Linked DNA regions of Homo sapiens: region 1 is linked to region 2. Evidence: fine-mapped expression QTL. Tissue or cell type: pancreas. Region 2 holds a variant in brackets; the other region holds the start of a gene. All regions are shown on one strand. Distances are from middle to middle.

What was found. PIP is the estimated chance that this variant, and not a neighbour inherited with it, causes the effect.
Region 1: it holds the start of VTCN1, and the variant in region 2 is fine-mapped to the expression of VTCN1 in pancreas (GTEx, PIP 0.94).

What each region holds. Positions count from the first base shown.
Region 1 is chr1:117,209,855-117,212,540 of GRCh38, forward strand. VTCN1 (V-set domain containing T cell activation inhibitor 1) reads right to left here and starts at 1,073. Exons shown (of 6, transcript NM_024626.4): 1 at 970-1,073. The coding sequence starts at 1,001.
Region 2 is chr1:117,241,829-117,244,514 of GRCh38, forward strand. No RefSeq gene overlaps it. Among named protein-coding and RNA genes, the nearest start is that of VTCN1, 32 kb to the left of the region's middle. The variant G/A (reference allele first, on the strand shown) is at 1,481.

The DNA.
Region 1 (2,686 bases), 32 kb before region 2:
CTGGGAAGTAACATTACTCTCGTAGTCTCTTCACAAACTTTTCACTGTTGACCTGAGGATTCCTTTCCTCTCTCCTTCCCTCTCTTCTTTTCTTCCTTTTGTGGGAAAAAGAAACAAATTGGAGGACTGGTCCTTCAAACAACCTCTAGAACCAACAAGTATCAGCCTCCCTAAACACTGTCCTGAGTTGTGACTGACACTGAATCAATCATTTCAAGAAAACCCTGCACTTTCCATCTCTTTCCTTCCAGGAGGGTAAATGCTGTTCTGAGGGAAAAAGAGGCAACTAGAATGTAGCTCAGGGGAGAAGCAAAAGGTAGGGGAGGGAACTTGCTTCCTTCTTCCTCTCTGGGGAGTTCAGCAGCAGCAGCAGCAGCAGCAGCAGCAGCAAGTTCTCCTCTCCAAGGAGCTCCTAGGAAAACTAGGGACCCAACCTTTGAGCTGGGGGGGCCTGGGGAGGGGTGTTGGTGTGAATTGCTCAAGAGTAGCAAGAAATCACACCCACAGAGAATGAAAGCACATTCTCCTCCGTCCCCCTGGGGGCTGCATAAAGGGTCCTCCTGCATCCCCTCCACTGTCGCAGTCATGGATTCCCTGCCATCCCACCATGCAACCCACACCAGCCTGCTCAGTGTCCCCATGGTGCTCACAGCCTTGACATCTCAGGGGAATGCCCAGCTTGGCACGTACTCCCCTCAGTCCAAGCTGCCCAGCAAGCGCCAGCCCTCCATGGCAGGCCACCAACCAAAAACCTCCCTAACCCTGAACAGGTGCCTTGAGCAGCTGAGGTGGGATGTTAAGTCAAATCCAGTTAGGCTCTTGTCTGGCCAGGCTCCCGCTGGCCCAATGCTGGATCAGATAAAATTACAGGTGGGGTCCTATGGGACAGCCCAGCAGTGCTCAGCATCCCCAAAAGACCTCACTGCTGTTCCCTTCACCCATAAGGATAGAGAGAAGAGTATATACTACCTCCAGAAGAGGATCTGCCCCAGGGAAGCCATGGCTGGGGAAGGTTCCCAGCGTATCTGGGTACTGGCTGAGTGGAGCTGCCGCTGCCTTCCTTGGTGACTCACAACCAGCTCCCGTGTATTGGCCTTAAATAGTGTGTTGAGGCCGGGAGTGGTGCGTGCAGCTGTAGACGGCTCAGGTATGAGGAAACTGGCTGTGCAGAATTCCCTGCAGGCACAGTGGCTGCCTGCTCCGGCCAGCCAGCCAAGCCAGGGGCTCAGAGCTGCCTTTCCAAGTCTTGACTTTGGGAGGGTGACGAGGAAAAGCTTCCCTGGCCCTTGCTTCAGGGCCTGCATTCAGCAGGACTTTCCTCCTGACTGTGGAAGGGAGCTGTAGGGAGGGAGATTTAATCTCAAAATAAGAAAGGACTGGAATAGCTCAAAGTGTCAGGCTATGCTGGGAGCCTTGGGGCCAGGAGTCCCCATCTCTGCTGGTAGATGACGCTCAAACAGAGGCTGGGTCACCATTGGTCAGGTCTCTCGTGGAGGAGACTCATGCTGGGGGACCTCAGGAAGGCCATGAGCTGAAGTGACAAGACCACTGAGTTTGTCACTCAAGACTGAACTTGCCTAGGTCTCCTGAGATGCCCAGCTGGGTGTGCAATTCTCTTCCAGCTTCATTTCAGTGGGAGCAGGAGAGGGCCAGCACTTCCCACCTTGCAATTTTTTTGAGACTCCAAAAAGACACTGAATGTGCTCTGCTTCAACTGCCCCTCTCTCTGGAGATCCCAATACTCAGAAGCTATTGCTGTCAAAGGTGAGTGGGTTAGCAAAAATCTCTGACATTTCATCCAGCAGATTGCCAACTAGGCAAGATTCTCGTTAAAGCCTAAACGTTGCTCTCTCTCTCTCTTATTCTCTCTCTCTCTCCTTATTGTTTCCTCCAGCCCCCAGAAGTACCTTGGATGGGAAAGTTTCATGACTGGTTGCCTGGCTTACTGCTGCTGCTGACTGACTATGTTTGCAGTGAAGGTGCTCCAGGCCTTCAGCAGCATCCTCCTAGTGTTTGCGTATGGGCAGGTGGAGCAACCATTGAGTAAAGATGGAGCAGAGAGAACTGAGTGGTGAAAATAAGGCAGCAGGAGAGGGCAAGGTCACAGTGGAAAGACCTTTAGAGTCAAACAGCTAGGTTCAATTCCTGGGTTCCTAATTAATCATGTGGCTTTGAGAACATCACTTTACTTCAATGTGTGTCTCACTGGGTTGCAGTGAGGGATAAATGAGAGGCGGGTCTATGTGCTTTCCCTTCCCCAGAATAAGTAAAGGGTGATGCCCTGGAATCTATGCAGTGCCAGTGCTGAATGGTCACTTCCCGGGTCTGGGGAAGCTGAGGGCAGTGGGAGCAGTGGTTTCTGTAATTCCAACCAAAGGCACAGGGATTCTGCCCTACCCCTCAATGAGCCTTAAGAAGAGCAGCTTCAGCTGGGCACAGTGGCTCAAGCTTATAATCCCAATATTTTGGGAGGCCAAGGTAGGAGGAATTTTTTTTTTTTGAGACTGAGTCTCGCTCTGTTGTCCAGGCTGGAGTGCAATGGTACAATCTTGGCTCTGTAACTGTAACCTCTGCCTCCTGGGTTCAAGCGATTCTCCTGCCTCAGCATCCCAAGTAGATGGGATTATAGGTGCACCACCGCACTCAGCTAATTTTTGTATTTTTAGTAGAGACGGGGTTTCTCCAT
Region 2 (2,686 bases):
CCACATCTTCTGGGATGCTGCTTAAAAATAGATTCCTGGGCTCAACACTGAATCTTCTCTCGGCAGAGTGGAGCCTGAAACCTGCCATTAAATAAGCTCTCCAGGTAATTCTTGTGCTTGATAAGCTTAAGAACCACATTTTTAGATTTTAGTAATTACCTTTACTGATTGCCAGATCTGTGTTTCCACCTCTTGTTTCCAAAGCATCCCCAAGGTTTGTTGATTCTGCATCTGAAGCATCTCTCAAATCTGTGTGTTCCATTCACATTTGCGGTCTCTTACCTGGCTCACAGCTTTATTTGAATCATTACAATAGCCACCGAGCTAGTATCTGTGATCTTTCTAAACCACACAGCTAACCCATGTCATTTTCCTTTCTAAAACCATCAGTGGTTTTCCATTCTCTCCCCTCGGGGTCCCGTTTCAACACTTTTTAAATCCTCCCTCTCTAACAAGAATCAGTTTATGTGCCAATTTCTCTGGAAAATTCTCAGCTGAATGGGGTCTCCGCTCCCACTTTGATGCCCGAAGAGCTCTGTCATCTCTTAAGGTATTTATTCACTTTACCTTTAGTAGAGCTATTTATTTATCTGTCTTATTTCCTCAAATCATGTTCCATGAGTTCAGGAAATGCAATTCATTCATCTTTTTATACTCCAAAGCACTTAGCCCAATGATTGGTACTCAATAAATGTTTGTTGAATGAATGATTGAGCTCATGTTTGGTTCAAAATATAGTTTTTCATTCTGTGTTTTTTCTCTTCCAGTAGTTAAAAATGAAACCCACAAGATAGTAATTCAAAAAATGTTGTTCATTCATTTCTGCTAAAAGAAAAACACTGACAGCCAAGCACTGACACTCATTTGTGATAATCATCAATTTAGATATTGCAATGAATTTCAAAAACAAATGTATCATAATCAAGGAACATAAAACCATTTACTAAGTATGACAAAGGACAAAAAACCTTTGCGTCCCCAATCATGGTCACAAAACAGGATTCAAAATGAATGCAAAGACAAGCAGCCCTTTGTGAATATTCAATGTGTAATATAATTTAAATATAGCAAGGGAGAGAGTTGACACTCAGAACTCCACTCCTCAAGGTAACTTTTCCTTGTTCTCCAGTTTGCAACAATTTTGCCTTCTCTTAGGCAGATATAAAGCTTGGGTGTACTGAGTGGATTTGATCACCTACACCGATCCCTGCCCATAGACTGTCTTCACACTGCAAGTCTGTTTCTACTGCTGGGCTGGGGGAGATATGTCTATGGCATTACAGCTGGGAGTGTGGACTTTTTTTCCTAAGAAAAAGATGCTATACATGAGGCTAAATAAATCAAAATAAAATTTTGAAGAATCCTATTTACTTATTTATTTATTGAGGTGGGGTCTTGCTATGTTGCCCAGGCAAGAGTGCAATGGCTATTCACAGGTGTGATTCCACTACTGATCAGCACAGGAGTTTTGAATTACTCC[G/A]TTTTTAAACTGAGCTAGTTCACCCCTCCTTAGGCAACCTTGTGGTCTTCCATTCCCGGGAAGTCACTATATTGGTGATGAACTTAATGCAGACACCTGATCAGCACACAGCACTGCAGCCCAGGAGCAAGCTCAAGCGATCCTCCTGCCTCAGCCTCCCCAAGTAGCTGGGACTACAGGCATGAACCACCATGTCTGCCTTAATAATCTTTTTATATTTAGGGTTAAACAGGCTCTTAGAATCTAGCCTGGTAACCTAACCATATAGTCTCAATGGTTTGGGCAAAGGCATTTTGAATTCCTACCAAGAGATGAACTTTTGAAAAACTCTCTTTCTGGACACATAAACAACTGGATAATGTTCTCCCCTTTTCTCACTTAGTCCCATTGACCTTGCAAAATGGCTCTTGGTCCTGTGGCTTCTGTCCTGGGAATATGGAAGAAATTACAATTAGACATACCATTTGCTGAATTACGCTTGAAACCCCACAATAGTGGCATTTCTTACAAAGTAAGAAAACCAAAAAATGAAGCTGTACAATAATAAAGCATTTAAGATAATTTTGGAAATGTTCTTCCTGATATTCGTTGCCGTTATGTTCTATTCATCTGTGCAAAGACAATATACTTCTCACACAATTAATCTGAAACCTATGCTGTTGTTCTCATTTGCCCTAAAATCATAAACTCACAAGGTTGGAAGAGCCCTTGGTGAACATCTGGCTAAATGCCCTCGTTTTGCCTACAAACACAATGAAATTGCTTTAGTTTTATCTTTGTCATAAATTTGATACATCACAAATATTCTGAATGCTTCCCGTGGGTTACAGATGTAGCCCATTGGGTTCTATATTGAATGAGTTTTGTTTATAAAATTGCAGGAAGAATTAATACATGGTATCTCTTTAGATAATACAGGACAAAAAACAACGTCAGAATCAATTTTATAAAGCGGTATTCTGGAAATAAAAGACAACAGACTCAAAATTTTAAATTAAAACTCTGCATGAAGGAAGAATAAATAGGAAAAGCACTCCTATTATTATTATTTAACCTCAGGAGGAATGAATGACTTAACTAGTGGTTTCACTCCCAGACTCCTTGGTACTTTAGAGACACATTTAAGCTTGCATTTAACTTGTTTGGAAACTAGCTTAGTAACTTGAGCAAACAGAAGCCTCTTTATGAGAACTGTCTTTCTCTGTG